Regions from separate parts of the Homo sapiens genome. Here all the other regions are linked to region 2. The links come from fine-mapping of genetic effects on gene expression. A gene starts in region 2. Each other region holds a variant in brackets. All regions are shown on one strand. Distances are between the middles of the regions.

What was found. PIP is the estimated chance that this variant, and not a neighbour inherited with it, causes the effect.
Region 1: its variant is the best candidate, but not a certain one, in a credible set for the expression of AGA in whole blood (INTERVAL, PIP 0.62).
Region 3: its variant is the best candidate, but not a certain one, in a credible set for the expression of AGA in whole blood (TOPMed, PIP 0.59).
Region 4: its variant is the best candidate, but not a certain one, in a credible set for the expression of AGA in whole blood (TOPMed, PIP 0.51).

The regions. Positions count from the first base shown.
Region 1 is chr4:177,394,737-177,399,941 of GRCh38, reverse strand. No RefSeq gene overlaps it. Among named protein-coding and RNA genes, the nearest start is that of AGA, 45 kb to the left of the region's middle. The variant G/A (reference allele first, on the strand shown) is at 3,144.
Region 2 is chr4:177,440,247-177,445,246 of GRCh38, reverse strand. AGA (aspartylglucosaminidase) reads left to right here and starts at 2,810. Exons shown (of 9, transcript NM_000027.4): 1 at 2,810-2,998; 2 at 4,821-4,974. The coding sequence starts at 2,872. AGA-DT (AGA divergent transcript) reads right to left here and starts at 237. Exons shown (of 4, transcript NR_183779.1): 1 at 1-237. RefSeq lists enhancers at 2,145-2,224, 2,315-2,858, 3,685-3,764.
Region 3 is chr4:177,581,220-177,586,424 of GRCh38, reverse strand. The region is part of intron 1 of AGA-DT (AGA divergent transcript); the gene reads right to left. Among named protein-coding and RNA genes, the nearest start is that of AGA-DT, 140 kb to the right of the region's middle. The variant A/G (reference allele first, on the strand shown) is at 2,810.
Region 4 is chr4:177,498,045-177,503,249 of GRCh38, reverse strand. All of the region lies in intron 1 of AGA-DT (AGA divergent transcript), which reads right to left. Among named protein-coding and RNA genes, the nearest start is that of AGA-DT, 56 kb to the right of the region's middle. The variant GAGTGTA/A (reference allele first, on the strand shown) is at 2,936.

The DNA of each region.
Region 1 (5,205 bases), 45 kb after region 2:
GCTTTAGACTGGTGATCAGAGAGGTTCTCTCTGAGGTGGTAACTTTGACTTGCAATCCTGAATATTGGAGTGGCACCAGGCATGGAATATATGGGGTCTGATACTTTGCAGTGAATATTAACTAGCAAAATTGGCCCATAATTATCACAACCATCTTTATACCTACAGAGTTTAAAAATGACACACTATGAAAGCACCTCTGAGAGTTCTGGCAACTCCCATGCAAATGCTGCATTAAATACAATGCAGTGTATCCCCTAGGCATTATTTGAACTTTTTATAAAATCCATGCAGCTACCACTCACACCACTCAAATATGCCATACTCATACAGGCATATTTCTTCTGTTAAGATCATCACCATCCCCTTTGGCCCTTTCAAACTCTCTTGGCACTCTCAATGTTTAGAAGGGGTGTTAATTTGAAGAAAAAAACCTTGAGTTATGTAAGAATTTTCTTCTCTTTTCTTTTCTTTTCTTTTCTTTTGAGACGAGGTCTCGCTCTGTTGCCAGGCTGGAATGCAGTGCGTGATCTCGGCTCACTGCCTCCTGGGTTCAAGCAATTCTTGTGCCTCAGCCTCCTTAGTAGCTGGGATTACAGGCACGCACCACCACACCCAGCCGATTTTTGTATTTTTAGTAGAGATGGGGTTTCGCTATGTTGGCCAGGATGGTCTTGATCTCCTGACATCATGATCCGTCCACCTCAGCCTCCCAAAGTGCTAAGATTACAGATGTGAGCCACCGTGCCTGTCCTATGTAAGAATTGTCTTAGACAAAGAATATATACTACTACATGATTGTCTTAGCAGGGACAATGTTTTTTCTTGTCCCTGATTCAAAACCATTTTGTGTTGCTTTGTGTTAGCTTTAAAATAGCAGATATATAAGTGATAATAAAAATGCTGTATTTCTACTCTCAGAGTACTTCCATCGTAAATAACTTCCTTGTAGTATGAATACTCATTCCTGAAGCTTACTCTTGTGTGTAGGTAGGGTAGATGTTCATCAATGTATTATGAATGAACAATTTCAAGAACAGCAGTCAAACATTTTTATTTATTATGGTTTCTAGCAATTGCTACATTCTCAAAATTTTTATTTCTTTCCCACTTAATGGAAGTTGACATTAAGTCTCAGATGGGTGACACTAAAGCTTTTTATACCCGGTGCAAATGAATCTCACTCTTTTCCTAGGATTTGGTATTGGCGAGGGCAAGAATAAAAGTAGAAAAATACTGTGTTTGTGGCAAGGAGTGAGAAGAAATAGGAAATGGAAGGCCTGAGAATTAGTTACCCCCAAAGAGAAAAACTCATGTAGAACAGGGAGACTGTGTTGTCAAAAAAATGTATATTCTCATTGGTCTCCAGACAGCTGGGGCAGAAACATTTCTCTAAAAATAGTGTGTTGACATAGGAAATTATTAACATCTCTGGTAGATCATTCTATTTACTCAGAAGATGTAATGGACTTTCTTGAACAAACAGCATTTATTCCATGAGAACTATAATAAGACATTCTTCTTGCCCTCTAGGGGCTTATAATCAAGGGGAAGGGTGGGCAGTATAGAGGAAACTAATGTTGGGAATCAATTTTCTGGGTCTGTTACATTTCTTCATGTCTTACGGACAGAGGTGCAGAGGTACAGACCACCTTTGTTTTGGGGTATCTTTCTAAGGATGTTTGTTTAGTGAACAGACTTGGAAGACAGTAAAGGGAGCTGCCTCTGGAGCAAAGGACAGGTTTGTTTGTGGTTTAGAATAATAAATTAATGTCTCCAGGCAAAATTTAGTAAGGTTTACTTCTTATTATAAAGGATTTGGGCTTCGTGAGTTCAGGGTTCCTCTCCACAGGGCAACCCACTGCACATGCAGGCGTTACCTGGCCTTCTTTGTGTCTCCCTTGGGAACTGGAGTTTAGAGAACTGGGACAAATGCTGATATTCCAGCTACTGCTATATCTTTGTGTAATAAAGTCCTTTGTCTCTGACCCAGGAGTTTCATGTCTTCTGCCAGCATTCATGAATCTGATAGGTAAACATGTTAGCTTACTTTTGGATAAAATCTCAGATGCTCCACAATTCTTGACAACCAACATGCTGCCCATTTTTTATTTCAAACACAGTAGATAACTAATGATAAAATAAGGTTGACGATAAGCCATTAATAGAAGTATAAGCAAATTATCATGAAGGTATATCTGAAGACAGATCATTTTGATCGGAGAACATATGGGAAGACCTAGAAAGCAGAATTTGAATGGGGCCTTGAAGGAAGGGTAGGACTTCAACAGTTGGAGTATCAGGTAATGGCATTACTAGTAGTGGGAACAGTTTGAGTAAAGTCTAAGGACATGTTAGGCAAGGAGAGACTGGTTATATTGGTGGGTAGGGTCAGGAGAAAAGAAATGGAGCAACAAGCCTTGAAAAAGGGACAGCATCCAACTCTCTGGGGGGACTGTGTAATGTTTTTGCATTTTTTCTTCCTTGGAATCATGGAAGTTTTTTGTGTGTTTTTTTACAAGAAACTTTTACAATCTAAGTACTTTGTACGGAAGAAGTGGCTTTGGTGCTAGAAAAAAATAGCACTTAAATAATTTCTACCCTTCAAAACTGAGAGTTGTCATCGTCTTAAATTCTGGACAAAGGTAGTTTTGTTTTTTCTTGATTGCCCTAATAAGGAGGAAGAATACACACTAGCACTGTAGATTCACTGCATTGTTCAACACCAACTTGCATGCAAGGTAGGTAGTATGGTGGTATCACTGGGACAATAAGAATCCAGAACATTTTCTCTCTGTCCAATGTAATCTATGACTCTAGAAAATGAAAAATACTTGTCTTGGCAAAGAAGCACAACTTCCCATTCTGAGCAGCTGCTCAGACCTTTGAGACTTATTCAAGGGGGCATCCCAATAACGTTGCACAGCAAGTCTCTAGTCTCTTCCTTGCACAGAAAAACAAATCCAGCTAAATATGCACATAATTTCCAGAAATACAGTCTGAAGAATGTGGCCTTCATTTCTTGAAAGGCCTTAGTAAATGTCAGTGATCTAAAAAGTAGACTCCAATGCCACATCAAGGACCATGCTTGCTAGAAACAGCTCATTTACAATTTGAGGAAAAGAGTCAGAAATGAAATGTAG[G/A]AATATAGCTTTTTAGACATCTTAGCAGTTGATTCTTGATAGGATGGATGTTTAAAAGTTCTAGCATTAATGATATTTACAATAGCACAATATGAAAGCATCAAGGTCACTTCCCAAATGTTCTTTCACTATGTTGCTTTCCAGAAGGGTAAATATGACAGAGTGTCTAGAAGCTGCCTAACAGTGGTTTTATCATAAATTCTGAATGATAAATGACTTTCAGACAGTCCTAAGCATCCCACAATGGGCTCTAATAGTACTGAGAGAAAATTTTACGATGAATACAAATCACCCCTAAAGCCCGTAATACATCATGCTGAGTAATATCACAATAAGAATGGGAAAGAAAATGAAACTTTAAATAGGCATATGCTTTTATGTACTTTGACTTGAATTTGTATTCTTTCCACCCACTCCCTCAATCTAACAATAAATATTACTCTGGAAAATAAGAAAACACCTTAAACATTTCTTGGAAAATTTGATTTGTAAAAAAAAACACAAAATCTGTACTATAAGAGATTAACATTACAATTTTTCTTATTGGTTAAATCGAGAATAATGATAATGCTTCCACATGCTCCCTTTTGAAAAGAGTTTTACATGTATTCTCATTTGAACTTTATAATAACTTAAAATAATAGACATTCCCATTTTATAGACAAAGGAATCAGCACATTTAAATGACACTTTGGCTAGCTCACAGGTTAATGAATGATAAAACCAGGAGTAGGAACTTCCGTCTCTTGAAAATTGAATAACAGTCTTACCAACTACCTAAGGGGTAGGAACTTCGGTCTCTTGAAAATTGAATATTAGTCTTACCAACTACCTAAGTTCAACATAAAATAATTTTGGGACCACTGTTATAGTAAATATTGCTGTGTAAAAAGTGATCCCTTAACTTGGAGGTGTTTTGTTTGATGTTGCTCAGGAGTATTAAATAATTTGTGGCTTTTATTTCTCAACCATCACTATCCCTAACGTCATTTTCCCCTCTGCTTTCATTTGAGCCAAATATAATACTTATTAATATATCTGACCTGAGTTTATGATAAATTTCCTAATAAAACTCAAACACCAAACCCAATCCATTCCTTTGGAGGTAAGATAAACTCTGTGTGATTCCATCTCTTAAAAAATCTGCTTAATTTGCTTTTGTGTTCAAAATAAAACAATTTTGATTAAGAAACTGCCATTCTATGATTAGTGAAGCCCACATAGAATAACAGCAGAAGGAAAGTGGTGATTCCAAAGGGAAGAGAAAACCGAATCACCTCACTTCTCAAGTAAGTGAACTCAGTGCTTTCTGTGCAAATTTTATTTTCTGTGCAAATGACAAGAAAGATAAAGGAGTAAATGTCTGTGAAGTTTATAAAATGGTTATTTTTTTCACTTAATGGCAGTTTGGTACCTTTTTTAAAAGCTGCTTGGGAAGAAAGTAGATCACCTGGTTGGATTGAAAACATTCTAACTAATGGTACTAGGCAGTGAATTATAATATTGTCTTCTCAGTATGCTCTATGGCCAGAATGGTATGCACACACACATTACTCTGTATCAGTTATTTTTTAAATTCAGGTGACCTGCTTATAACTGATAGATGGGAAAAAGTACAATTAAATGTAAGATATTTAATTTGGTCTTATGCAATAGCTTACATTTGTGTTCCATGTTAAAGTTTTTCAAGTGTTTTCCCAGATTTGATTCTTTTGATCCTAACAACCACCTTGGGAGGTAGATAGAATCACTATTTGTAATTCACATTTTGCTGATAACAAATGAGGTTTGTAAAGGCTGAATGGCTTGCCTACCAAGCTCCTAAAAGTAGGCAGAAGGAGAACTAGAATCAAGACCTGCTTTATCCAGTGGCTTCTCTATTTATTTTTTGAGGAGTCTGGCTCTGTCACCCAGGATGGAGTGCAGCGGTGCGATCTTGGCTCACTGCCTCCTGAGTTCAAGGAAGCAGTGAGCCTCCTTGACCTCTGCCTCCTGGGTTCCAGCAATTCTCCCACCTCAGCCTCTGGAGTAGCTGGGATTACAGGCTTTTGGCACCATGCCT
Region 2 (5,000 bases):
CATGCCGGTGTGCTCCTATGCTGGTGCGTTCCTTTCGACATCCAGCAGCCCCTGTATTCTCTGCCTATATGCTCCTCTCAATGTCCAGCTGCTTGTGCGTCTGCCTGCCAGGGTCTCGGGGGTTTTTAAAGGCACAGGATGAGGGCATGGCAGGCCAGGGTGGTCTTGGGAAATGCAACATCCGGGCAGGAAAACAAAAATGCCTGTCTTCACCTAGGTAGGCCCAGGCCCAGGGATGAAGCCCTAGCTGGGGACCACGCCCTCCTCTACCCAGCACTTCCCGCCCCCCTTCCTTATCATTTAAAGGGACCACGCCCTTCCCTTCCCAGCATTCCCTTCCCAGCACTTTCCTGCGGCATCACTACCTGTTAACAGGTGTTCCTTTTCGTTTAGATTTACCTCAAAACAACGGCGAAGGATCTAATTATATTTAGGCCCAAAAGAGCACCTAAGTGAGAGTAACAGAAGGTTACTTCTAGAACTAAAATGAAAATTATTCTTCAAGTGTTAGTCAAAGGAAAACTACTCCAGAAGGAACCAAATATCCAGACGAATTTAACTTAAGAAACAGCTACAATTTAGGCAAACTGGACAGTGGATCCAGTAGGTATTTTAGTAGCCACTAAGAAGACACTGAATCGGGTAGATTCTATAGGGATTGCATATTAGTTATTTAAATACAAATATCCGGCTGGGCACGGTGGCTCACACCTGTAATCCCAGCATTTTGGGAGGTCGGGGGGGTGGGGGCGGTGGGTGGATCACCTGTGTCAGGAGTTCAAGACCAACCTGGCCAAAATGGCAAAACCTGTCTCTACTTAAAATACAAAAATTAGCCGGGCATGGTAGTAGGCAGTAGCAATCCCAGCTACTCAGGAGGCTGGGGCAAGAGAATCGCTTGAATGCAGGAGGTGGAGGTTGCAGTGAGCTGAGATTACACCAGTGAACTCCAGCCTGGGCGATAGAGCAAGACTCCATCTCAAAAAATAAATACATACATACATACATACATACAAATATCCATGGAAAAGTTGATATATTGAGACCTTCTATCAGCCATTCCCACTATAGTGTAATTTAGCTGTTTCTCTGACAGGAATTTTTATTTAAGAAGAAAGAATTTGGAGAAATAGACATAGTAGGAGGTAACAGATCAGGCTCTTTCCACCAGAAGAAACACAAATACCTTAAAAAACAGGAAGAGGCTAGAGAGATCAGTGGGGTACTAAGACCAATTTTCCATGTATTGTATTTTACAATTTTTGCTAAAGGCATGTCCTAATTCCTTAAGGCTGCATAAAAATACTCAGCCCAGGAGCTAAGGAAAATTTACTCAGAGGACAATGTATGTTTTTCTGGCTTTCTTACCCTGTTTCACCCAAGTTTCCAGTTTCACCTGCCATTGGGTTATGATTACTCCAGCACAGATGACTTGTTCCTCTTCCAAACCCCATGAAAGGAACTTAGAAAATTTGTCTTTATTATATCTTTTAATTAACACTTCCCCAACGGGATAATGATACTTCTGGGCTATCTTATGTTCTTTAAATTATGTATTTAATTTCCTAGCAATCAATAAGAGCCTTGAAGGTTTTGTAAGTCTCACAACTCCTACCTAGTTTATATTTTTACATTTATTTATTTATTTATTTTTGAGACAGAATCTCACTCTGTTGTCCAGGCTGGAGTGAAGTGGTGCGATCTCGGCTCACCACAATCTCCACCTCCCGGCTTCAAGCAATTCTGCCTCAGCCTCCCAAGTAGTTGGGACTACAGGCATGCACCACCACGCCCGGCTAATTTTTGTATTTTTAGTAGAGACGGGTTTCACTATGTTGGCCAGGCTGGTCTCGAACTCCTGACCTCGTGATCCACCCACCTCAGCATCCCAAAGTGTTGGGATTACAGGCGTGAGCCATCGTGCCCAGCCTAGTTCATATTTTTAAAGTTTGTATAGATTTATAGATGCTTTTAAAAATTATGTGATTATGTGTCTTGCCTTGGCAACCTGGGCAGGCATTCCAGACACCCAAAGGGATTATTAGTTCATGTTCGCACGTCTGCCCAGCAACAAAACTGAGCAGCCTCCACCAAGCACGTAAAATCCCCATTCCTCCTCTTATTCATTTATTTAGCACTTAATAGTGCCAGGCAGGAAGGTAAAAATACATTTAAAAAGGAATGGAGGTAGCCGTCTTGCCCTGGAGGTGCAGGAAGCTGCACTTCAGTGTGCTAGGTAGAGGGTACATAGGCCGTTTCTGTTTTTCTTCCAGCTCAGGGATTTATAATGAGAGGAAGTGCTACAAAAAGCTGTGGTGCGAAAATGACGGACGCTATGAATGGAAAAAAAATCTAAAATCAATCCGGTCCTAAGCAAACACGCTTCACCTACACTCATAACTATTGCAGACCTCCGAGGCCTGGGATCCCCAAGAATATACTGAGTTTGACAAACTTTTCAACTTCAACTTTAAATTAAAAAGACAGTAAAAGAACCAAATCCATAGTACACAGCAATCGGCTAAAGTTCCTGGGGCCCTGCAACCCAGAGTTGAATAATTTTGTATTAAATTCCCAATATCAAGCTAAATCTATTTTAACCACAGGAAAAGCAGCAACTTGTCTGGCTATTTTAAAAATCTGAACAGCACTTAGGAAGAAGCACCTTAGCGCAGGGAACAGCTCAGTGCCCCGTGACACAACTCTCCCGCGGGCCCAGGGACGCCTCGTCTCGCGAGAGTTGAGGGACGCCTGAGCGAACCCCCGAGAGAGCGGGCGTGGGCGCCAGGCGGGCGGGGCACTGGGGATTAATTGTTCGGCGATCGCTGGCTGCCGGGACTTTTCTCGCGCTGGTCTCTTCGGTGGTCAGGGATGGCGCGGAAGTCGAACTTGCCTGTGCTTCTCGTGCCGTTTCTGCTCTGCCAGGCCCTAGTGCGCTGCTCCAGCCCTCTGCCCCTGGTCGTCAACACTTGGCCCTTTAAGAATGCAACCGAAGCAGGTGCGGGTTGGCGGCCTGGGCGGGCGGCTGCGCCGCGAGAGCTTGCGGGTGGGGATGACTAGCCCGCCCCGCTGCAGTCACCCGGCAGGGCGGACGGAAGAGCGCCGGGCTGGGCCGGGCCTCGCGGTCCCGCCCTCTAGGTCTTCCCGAGTCTCCAGCGCCGCTCAGTCTCTTGCAAGTGGCCTTTACTGCATCCTCCCCACCTACCGCTGTTGCATTTTAGGTCCTCCCTTCATGCAGCCCCCAGCGCAATGTATTTTCCACCCTGCTGCTGACCATAGTTATGGCCTTTGTGCTTTAATCAAGTAGCAGCTACGCTTTTCTGCCTGACAGTCTTTTCACGGGCTGTGTACGTCTCCACCTCTCGTTTCTAATCCTTCACTTCTTTGCAATTTTGTAGACGACTAATAGTGTCCCAGCCATAGCCTACTCTTTTCCCATTTACTTTTTTTGCCACGTGTTGTCATACTTTACCTGCCACTTAGAATTCAAGGTTCCAACCTTTGCTGTACATTCACACTATCTGGGGAGCTTCTCAAAAATCATCCTGCCGGGGCCCACCTCCTGTGACTGTGATCTAACTGCTGGAATCAGGGCCACTGTTTTTCTTTAAAAAGCTCCCTAGGTGATTTCGATTTGCAGACAGGGTTGAGAACCACTAAGCTAAGGTATCACCTCTTCCAGGAAGCGTTCCCTGACTTAACTGCCCTCGTGTCCAGAATGAGTTAGGTTCCTGCCTTCTACACCTTGTTAATAGCCTTTACGTACCATTATCTTGGCATTTTCGCATTGTACTATGCTTGTTTCTTTCATTTGCTTAATGACCAGAAGAGTCATTTTCAGACCCCTCCTCCTCCATCTGAGGTTGCTAACGTATTAACTTTCTAGGGCAGAATTGGCTCCAGAATTTGGTGGCAGTGCATACGATTCAGAGAAAATGAAGAAGCAGGCTGTGAGAAAGATATTCCCAGCCATAATGAGACGAAAAGAAATTGCATCAGCCTGGGCGGGGGACAGTTCTGTGTTTAAGTTGCCTGTATTGAAAGAGGGAACTTGCGTAAATACACTTTCAAGCCTGTAGGTGCTGTAGTGTTTACCAACCAGAGCACCCACTCTTCAAGGAATTCTGTTGTTACCAGAAAAGAAATTGTCCATCAAAGACCCTTCCCCCCACACCCCCAAATGTATGGGATCCTGGCTCTGCTACTTACCAGCTGTGTGACCTTAAACTAACTGCCTGACCTGTGGCTCTGTTTACTTTTCTTTAAAATGAGGGTCGTGATTGTACAGTACCTACCACAGAAGCTGTTATGAAGACTCAATGAACTAATCCATATGAAGTCCACGTTGTAATTGTTTGCTGTTCAGTATTATTAAGACTTCCTGGGATAGGTGTTACCTCAATACACATATCAATTATGCATATTTTAATCTAATGATGCAGAAGAAATGTGTGAAGAAGGCTGCGGTTTAGTGGATTTTTTATTTAACTGCCTTTTAGTGGTTTCGATTGTACCTTTTAAAATAAAGGAGGGGATACTGATTTCGTTTCTCGCACACAGAAGAGATAGATATTAGTAAGTGAAAAAAAAAAAAACCTTCAGCTTGCACCAATAGCCAGTTTTTTGAGTTCTTCTGATAACTAGTTAAATAATTTTGACTCTTCACTGACTCCTTTGTAACACTTGATAAACTAATGTGTTAAAAAATCAGCTTAACTCAGTAAATGTGAAAAAGTTGTTAAATTGGAGTTGGTTTGTTGCATTTGGCATTGAAAAAAAAATATATATATAAACAAGCATTATTGGGATTTGATTAACAGCGTGGAGGGCATTAGCATCTGGAGGCTCTGCCCTGGATGCAGTGGAGAGCGGCTGTGCCATGTGTGAGAGAGAGCAGTGTGACGGCTCTGTAGGCTTTGGAGGAAGTCCTGATGAACTTGGAGAAACCACACTAGATGCCATGATCATGGATGGGTAAGAACACCGTTCAGGTCCTATTT
Region 3 (5,205 bases), 140 kb before region 2:
TTTGTTCTGAGGTAATAGCAACCGCATGAACAGAAAGATGACAGGCCTACAACACACTCCATACAGCTGGCGCAGAATTTGGTGATTTCCATTAATCAAGGCAACAGATGCTTATCTTAATAATTTAGTAGTTTCTATAAGTCTGTCTATATTCTTCATTTCTATATGTATAAATTTATAAAGCAAAAAACACTACCAACATCAATTGATGTTAATATTTCTGTGTATTTCTGTTCATTGTTTTTTCAAAGTAGCTACATAAATTTTATTAAATTGGAGTCATCGAATATGTAGTTTGATACCCGGTTTTCAACTTAATATTGCAAACATTTTCACATACCATTAAATATTTTAAGTTATCTTTAAAAATTGTTTATTAGCAACTGCAAAATATGCCATCATCAAAATGTACCAAAGTATATTTAATCGTGACCTTTGTTTTGGCGTTTAGTGATTTATAGTTTTTTAAGAACTATGAAAAATTAATATACACACATTTATAATATCTGTGATTATCTTTTAGCATAGATTTTGAGAACTAGGATTATGGGGGAAAGAATACATTTTTAGAGATTTTCGTATGCATTTTCAAACTGCTTTCCAGGAAGAATACATTCTTACCAATAGTATATGAGAGGTTTCATTGTCTAAGTATCTCTTATCATACCTATATCTTTATTAGCTGGATAACTAACTGTTTTATCTTGGTCCAACTTTGCATTTTGAATATCAAAATAAACATGAAGGTTTTTGTTCACATTATATGTAGTAGTAATTCTTATTAAGCCACTATGACAGCATGAGCTCATGGTTAACATTAAAACTTAGAAAGAAAAAATCTGATACTTAAAACTGTGTTTTTTAAAATGAGAGAACTTCAAAAGGATAGCTTTTCTCGGTAACGGATTTTTTTAATCACTCCTTATCAAATGACTGGCGATGTGCTCTATTACTATTAATAAAGAAATATATAGCAGAAGTAAAACTGAAGTTATGGAATATCAAATTCACCTTTACTCCTTGACTTTCTCATTCACACTTTTTTCATTATACTACAAATTGAGATTACATAATATTGAGCTTCCTTTAGAATTCAGAATATTTCTGTACATCTTGTCATGCTTCAGCATAACCTAAAATGGGACAAGTTCTCTTAGCAGATTTTTTTTCAAGTCCAAAAGAAGAACTCTGAATAAAGTCTCAAACTCCGGGGTTAATCTCCTTGACCAACCAGTAACCAACAGTATTTCCAACTAAGATTACAACTATGCAGTAGATTCAGAAATGGCATCAACAATGTTTAATGTCAAAATGCAGTCAAAGCCAACATTTGCTATAACTGAGAAAACCATTATATAGGTGCCTTTGTTTGCTGTAGATATGAATGACGTTAATTTACTTTGAAGAGATTCTTAGGGAGGTTGCAGAACTCTGGAGTTCTAGAGAATACAAATATCTGAATTAATGTTTGAAGATTCTATAAAACATACATGTATATAAAATTGAATATGCATATATGTGAAGATTCTATAAAACAAATATACATATACGTGAAGATTCCACAAAACATGTATACCACCATTTGAATCTTATACTCCTGAGGATAATTAAATTTAGCTTCTGCAAGAGACAGACTTCAAAGTTTCCATGGCTTAAAACAACATAGATGTATTTCTGGTCCACCTGAAATCTGATACAAATCCTGTTTCATGTTGCTACTCTGCCATCAGGAACATAGGCCTCCCAAGTCACAGGAGAAGACAGTGATGGTGGAGACACACCTGCTGGCTTCTACTTCTTCTGGAATTGATGTCATTTCTGCTCATAGTTCATTAATCAGAACAAGATGGAAGGCTAGAGAATGCAGAGAAATAGAAGGAAACATTGGTTTCTGCCACGTATCTCAACTAAAGCCTATGCAATTTAAAAATCTGTAATATGTAGAAGAATTAAAAGAGGTTAGATCTCTGCCACAAAATGCTTACTAGATGAGTCCTCAATCTTATATTCGAGATTTTGTGAAACATAAAAAGTTTAAGACATAATTCCTACCCACGAAAATCCTAAAATGTATAATATAGTTAAGGAGTCAATGCAAAATGTATCAAGATTTAAGAATGATTTTTTTTGCAGCACAGAAACAGAAACATTTACTATTAAAGAAGGAGATCCATGAATAATTACAGTGGGCTTCATAAAAAAGTTGTGTGAGTTAGTCTCTCAAGGACAGAATGGTGAGATTGACATAGGAGTGGGGAAAAGAGAGTACATTAGAGGCAAGATGATGGGCTCCAGGGAAAGCAAAGGCGAGAAGGGCTATGACAGCTTCAGAGAAACTTAATAGGCCTAATTAGACAGAGAGTACATTTTGAGAATTCGTGGTAAATAAATACATGGAGCAGAGAATCTTGTAAACCACATAGCAGAACTTAGAACTGACACAGTAGAAAACTGGGAAACATTTGAAGTTCTTGAGCAAAAGCCTGAGATTTCTTGTTTAAGAATTATACTGCACTTATCTCCACGAGGACATGAAGTGGTATACACAGTACAATATGATGCAAAATTAGGCATCAGGGAATAAAACCAAGCATTGTCTGCTTGACGAATTTAATGGACTTAATGAATTTAATTAAACAGGAGGAAGAGATGGTGGGCTACACACTACTTGAAACAGCTGGATGCTGATTACTTGGCTATGCCGAATTTCACTCTTCATTTTCTTACTTAAAACAAAAAGGAAAATAGATTAGGTTAAATTATTTTCACGGTTGGGCCAAAGAAAAAATAATCCACAAAACCCTCACTC[A/G]CATAGGTCACGATAGGAGCAGTGTTTGAGGAAGATTTGTCTGGCATCAGTCTGAAAGGTGAGTTGGAGCAACGGGCAGGAGAGGTGGAGGGAGCAAAGACATAGTGAGGGCCCCAGCACCACAGTGGCCAACAAACACCCAAAACACTACAGTAGTAGGGTGGTGGTGGTGATGAACCCACTGTGGTAGGAACTGTCTTTTGTGAGTGTCTCATTGAAGTCCCTAAATATTCTCTGACAAATAAGTGTTACTAAAGGAAGTCAAAGGTGTTCTAGAGTCTTCACAAAGAAAGACATCAGTGCAACCAAAACCTGAAGCCATTTACTAAGCATGCCAAATGTAGAGTCCCTTTACATTCTGTCAGTGAGCATAACATGAATGTTGCTAAAGGTCATGTGCTAACAATGATTATTTAGACAAGATAAGGAGATCATGTACATGAATAACTTACCATGACTAATGGTTGCTTGGGGAACACCCAAACTTCATTCAGAAAGTCTCACAATCTTAATGCCCTAAGAAGTATTTAGAGATCATTCACAGAGCCTTCTACTCACACAATGTCACATCTAAATCATTATAATGACTTCTATTTTAGAGTCTTTTGGAACAGAAGATGACATACTCTTTAATTGATAGGTGGCTATAGACATTTTAAAACATATCTATTTGCAGATTGCTATTTTTATAGAGAAAGATAAGTAAAACTATACTCCCAATAAGACAGAACAAAGAAACCAATACAAAAAGTTTAAAAATATAATAACAACTTTCTTTATTAACATTTTAGAACAATTAAGTGAAGCAAATGAAGGTAAAATAGTCCATTTTTTAACACTCCCTTCAAGCTTACTATGCTCCTTTTTCAAATGCCTACAACATTGTTATGTGTGTTCTTGTGTGGCCACCAAAAAAGTTGTTTTACAAAAGCATGCTATCAACAAATACACAAGATTTTATTAATTGGGAATAATAACAATAGGCTTTATTTCATTTAATGCCATCTCCCAGGTAATATATGGAAAGTCAAATTTCAAAATCTCTTCAACTAAGAAAATATGAACAACTAATTAATTACAATGAAATATCATAGCAGCAAATTATCACTCTCTCAGCTATTTTCACTACTTTTCATTATGTCTATAAATCAATCAATGTTGTTCATTCACATTTATTGATTTTTTCATCATAATATAGATTATACCGTTTTCTTCCTTGGATTAACATGTAACAGTCCTTAGAGACACTGGATGCTAAACTATGGATCTCAGAAAGTATTCAATATATTATTATGTATTTAATAATCATTTGGGACTACTTTGAAAGAGATGGTATACTAACCAGGTCATTCTAACATCTATAGGATATGCTACATCAATGCAGAATGGTTTTATAACCTTGCCAAGGTCATGAAATACCACTCTACAATGAAAATAAAGTAAGTCCAGTGAAATGTGAAAATTATGACTGAAAGCCATGTTTTCTTTCAATCAAATAAGATCTCACATTCTTTTGAGAACCTTCAAACAATGGACTGACTGCGATTCTGTCAGATTAAGTTCAAAATAGCATGTTGCAAGGTAAGAGCTTTTTTTTTCCTCTCTCTCTGCTTTTTCGTTGTTTGCTTGTTTAGTGTGTTCATCCATTTTGTTCATTTCTTTAAGATTTTTTAAATTGTTTTTAAAAATATTTTTAAAACAGTGAAAAATATACTAACAAAGACCACATAGATAAATGTATATACGGCCAGTTTTTAAAACATTTTTAAAAGAGGCAGTGCAGTCAGTTCAGCAACATGTCGCCTGACATCCTTAAGTACACATTGTCAAATTGACCCATACGGTTCCAAATAACACATCATTGACAATCAGCTTCATAAGCATTTAGACATTTTTGAACCATCCATTATTCTTTTGATAACTTATGATGACTTTTTTGTAAGCATCACAATCTATAATTTTCTAAATATATACTCCCATTTTCCCTACCTAAAGATTTTGAACATAAAAGGTCTACTAAAATATTTTAAATAAGCAGATATTTCATTCAAAAAGAAACACAAGAAGAAAAGCTCAAAACAAATGATAAGACTTTCAGTTCTTTATTTATTTTATTTTATTTTTGAGACGGAGTCTCGCTGTTGTTGGTCTGAGCTATAGGGCAATGGCGCGATCTTGGCTCACTGCAACCTCCGCCTCCCAGGTTCCAGCAATTCTCCCGCCTCAGCCTCCCGAGTAGCTGGGATTACAGGCACCTGCCACCACGCCCGGCTAATTTTTGTATTTTTAGTAGCGATGGAGTTTCACCATGTTGGCCAGGCTGGTCTCGAACTCCTGACCTCAGGTGATCCACCAGCCTCGGCCTCCCAAAGTGCTGGGATTACAGCCATGAGCCA
Region 4 (5,205 bases), 58 kb before region 2:
GGGTTAGCTATTCTTATATCAGACAAAACAAACTTTAAAGCAACATCGGTTAAAAGACAGAAAGAGGGACATTATATAATGGTAAAAGGTCTTGTCCAACAGGAAAATATCACAATCCTAAACATATATGCACCTAATACTGGAGCTCCCAAATTTATAAAACAATTACTAATAGACGTAAGAAATGAGATAGAGAGCAACACAATAATATTGGGGGACTTCAATACTCCAGTGACAGCACTAGACAGGTCATCAAGACAGAAAGTCAACAAAGAAACCATGGATTTAAACCTTGGAACAAATGGACTTAATAGATATATACAGAACATTTTATCCAACAACCACAGAATATGCATTCTATTCAACAGCACATGGAACTCTCTCCAAGACAGACCATATAATGAGCCTCAATAAATTAAAGAAAATTGAAATTATATCAAGCACTCTCTCATACCACAGTGGAATAAAACTGGAAATCAACTCTAAAAGGAACCTTGAAAACCATGCAAATACATGGAAATTAAATAACTTGCTCATGAATGAGCATTGGGTAAAAAATGAAATCAAGATGGAAAGTTAAAAATTCTTTGAACTGAATGACAATAATGACACACAACCTATCAAAACCTCTGGGATACAGCAAAGGCAGTTCTAAGATGCCAACAGGAGGTTCATAGCCCTAAACGCCTACTTCAAAAAGTCTGAAAGAGCACAAACAGACAATCTAAGGTCATAGCTCAAGGAACTAGAGAAACAAGAACAAACCAAACCCAAACCCAGCAGAAGAAAGGAAATAACCAAGATCAGAGCAGAACCAAATGAAATTGAAACAAAAAATACAAAAGATAAATGAAACAAAAAGCTAGTTCTTTGCAAAGATAAATAAAATTGAAAGACCATTAGCAAGATTAACCAAAAAAGAAGAGAGAAAATCCAAATAACCTCACTAAGAAACAAAACAGGAGATATTACAACTGACACCACTGAAATACAATAGATCATTCAAGGCTACTATGAACACCTTTACACACATAAACTAGAAAACCTAGAAGAGATTGATAAATTCCTGGAAAAATACAACCCTTCGAGCTTAAATCAGGAAAAATTAGATACAGAACAGAACAATAACAAGCAGCAAGATTGAAATGGTAATTTAAAAATTACCAACAACAACAAAGAAACTCCAGAACAAGATGGATTCACAGCAGAATTCAACCAGACATTCAAAGAAGAATTGGTACCAATCCTTTTGACACTATTCCACAAAATAGAGAAACAAGGAATCCTCCCTAACTCATTCCATGAAGCCAGCATCAGCCTAATATCGAAATCAGGAAAGGACACAAACAAAAAAGAAAACTATAGACCAATATCCTTGATGAACACAAATGCTAAAATTTTTAAGAAAATACTAGTTACCCGAATCCAACAGCATATCAAAAAGATAATCCACCATGATGATTAAGTTGGTTTCATACCAGGGAGCAGGGATGGTTTAACATGCTCAAGTCAGTGAATGTGATACACCACATAAACAGAATTAAAGACAAAAATCACATGATAATCTCAATTGATGCAGAAAAAGCATTTGAAAAATCCAGCATCCCTTTATGATTAAAACTCTCAGCAAAATCGGCATACTAGGCACATACCTTAATGTAATAAAAGCCATCTATAACAAACCCACAGCCAACGTAATACTAAATGGGGAAAAGTTGAGAACATTCCCTCTGAGAACTGGGACAAGACAAGGATGCCCACTCTCACCACTCCTCTTCAACATAGTACTGGAAGTCCTAGCCAGAGCAATCAGACAAGAGAAAGAAATAAAGGGCATCCAAATCAGTAAAGAGAAAATCAGACTGTCACTGTTTGATGATGATGTGATTGCTTACCTTGAAAACCCTAAGGACTCCTCCAGAAAGCTCCTAGAACTGATAAAAGAATTCAGCAAAGTTTCCAGGTCCAAGATTAATGTACACAAATCGGTAGTTCTTCTATACACCAACAGCGACCAAGCAGTGAATCAAATCAAGAACTCAACCCCTTTCGCAATAGCTGCAAAATAAATAAATAAATAAAATACTTAGGAATACACCTAACCAAGGAGTTGAAAGACCTCTACAAGGAAAACTACAAAACACTACTGAAAGAAATAATAGATGACACAAACAAATGGAAACACATCCCATGCTTATGGATGGGTAGAATCAATATTGTGAAAATGATCATACTGCCATAAGGAATCTACAAATTCAATGCAAACCCCATCAAAATACCACCATCATTCCTCACAGAATTAGAAAAAACAATTCTAAAATTCATAGGGAACCAAAAAAGAGCCTGCATAGCCAAAGCAAGATTAAGCAAAAGAACAAATCTGGAGGCATCACACTACCTGATTTTAAACTATACTATAAGGCCACAGTCACCAAAACAGCACGGTACTGGCATAAAAATAGGCACATAGACCAATGTAACAGAATAGAGAACACAGAAATAAACCCAAATACTTATGTGTCCGGAATTGGTGGGTTCTTGGTCTCGCTGACTTCAAGAATGAAGCCATGGACCATCGCGGTGAGTGTTACAGTTCTTAAAGATGATGTGTTGTTCCTTCAGATGTTCAGATGTGTCCAGAGTTTCTTCCTTCTGGTGGGTCCGTGGTCGCACTGACTTCAGGAGTGAAGCTGCAGACCTTCACGGTGAGTGTTACAGCTCTTAAAGGCGGCACGTCTGGATTGTTCATTCCTTCCAGTGGGTTCATGGTCTCGCTGGCCTCAGGACTGAAGCTGCAGACTTTCACAGTGAGTGTTACAGTTCATAAAGGTGGCATGTCCGGAGTGGTTTGCTCCACCTGTCCGGAGTTGTTCGTCCCTCCCAGTGGGTTCATGGTCTCGCTGGCTTCAGGAGTGAAGCTGCAGACCTTTGTTGT[GAGTGTA/A]ACAGCTCATAAAGGTGACGCAGACCCAAACAGTGAGCAGCAACAAAATTTATTGCGAAGAGTGAAACAACAAACGTTCCACGGGCGTGGAAGGTGACCCGAGCAGGTTGCCGCTGCTGGCTCAGGTGGCCTGCTTTTATTCCCATATCTGGCCCCACCCACATCCTGCTGATTGGTCCATTTTACAGAGAGCTGATTGGTGTGTTTACAAACCTTTAGCTAGACACCAAGTGCTGATTGGTGCATTTACAATCCTTTAGCTAGACACAAAAGTTCTCCAAGTCCCCTACCTGATTAGCTAGACACAGAGCACTGATTGGTGCATTTACAAACCTTTAGCTAGACATAGAGTGCTTATTGGTGCATTTACAAACCTTTAGTTAGAAAAGTTCTCCAGGTCCCCACCCGACCCAGAAGCCCAGCCAGCTTCACCTCTCAATGGCATTCGCGGCAGGACTTTGTGGCACCTAGCCTGGGCACTCTCCAACAGCCCAGAGGGAGCTTGTCCCCCATCAAGCCCAGCAGGCGGCCAGCCTGCCATGCCCAGTGCAGGCCCCTGGGAGCCCGCGCCCACCCAGAACCCATGCTGGCCCGTGAGCACTGCGCGCAGCCCTGGCTCCTGCCCACGCCTCTCCCTCCACACCTCCCTGCAAGCAGAGAGAGCCAGCTCTGGCCTCCGCTGGCCCCAGAAAGGGGCCCCCACAGCCCAGCAGCAAGCTGAAGGGCTCCTGAAGCGTGGCCAGAGCAGATGCTGAGACCGAGGAGGCACCGAGAGTGAGCAAGGGCTGCTAGCACGTTGTCACCTGTCACAGCCAACTGATCTTCAAGAAAGCAAACAAAAACATAAAGTAGGGAAAGGACACCCTTTCTAACAAATGGTGCTGGGGTATTTGGCTAGCCACATGTAGGAGAATGAAATTGGATCCTCATCTCTCACCTTATACAAAAATCAACTCAAGATGGAGTAAAGACTTAAACCTAAGACTTGAAACTATAAAAATTCTAGAAGATAACATTGGAAAATCCCTTCTAGACATTGGCATGGGCAAGGATTTCATGACCAAGAACCCAAAAGCAAATGCAATATAAACAAAAGATAAATAGCTGGGACCTAACTAAACTAAAGAGCTTTTGCATGGCAAAAGGAACAGTCAGCAGAATAAACAGACAACCCACAGAGTGGGAGAAAATCTTCACAATCTACACATCTGAGAAAGGACTAATATCCAGAATCTGCAATTAACTCAAACAAATCAGTAAGAAAAAAACCAATCACATCAAAAAGAGGGCTAAGTACATGAATAGACAATTCTCAAACGAAGATATACAAATGACTAATAAACATATGAGAAAATGCTCAACATCACTAATGATTAGGGAAATGTAAATCAAAACCACAGTGCAATACCACCTTACTCCTGCAAGAATGGCCATAATCAAAAAACAGTAGATGTTAGCGTGGATGCAGGGAACAGGGAACACTTCTACACTGCTGGTGGGAATGGAAAGTAGTGCAGCCACTATGGAAAATGGTGTGGAGATTCTTAAAGAACTATTAATAGAACTACCCTTTGATCCAGCAATCCCACTACTGGGTATCTACCCAGAGGAAAAGAAGTCATTATTTGAAAAAGATACTTGCATACGCATGTTTATAGCAGCACAATTCACAATTGCAAAACCATGGAACCAGCCCAAATGCCCATTAATCAATGAGTGAATAAAGAAACTGGGGCATATATATATATATATATATATCTCCCAATAAATTATGGAAAAATAAAATAAAATAAATTTTAAAAATTCTACATAATAATTACTATTATTAGCAGTCGTAATTAAAATTCCACTGGCGTATGCCCTGTTTATATCTGCTTAACACACAACCCTACCTTCCCTTCAAGTCTCTTTCCTATCTGGTAGTCTCAGAGGACATCTGGTAGCTTCTGAAAGGAACCCTAACATCTTCTGGTTCTGAGTCCCCTTGTTTATGTCCCAAAGGCTACCTGGGAGCTTCGCCAGAGCCACAGAACTTCCACATAGCAGGGCCTAGGAGCAGCAGGCTTGCTGGGGAAGGGACTAGAGGATTTTTTTAAGTTACAGTTTAGAAGCAAGTGTACTGCTTTTATGTTGTTTATATGTCACAGATTTAAAAAAAAAAAAAAGACAAAATGTCCAGAGATGCTTTCCTGCACTTTTACATTAGATTCAAAAAAATGTCAATTTTCTTCATCGTTTTGCAGGTGACTGGAGAACTAATAGGG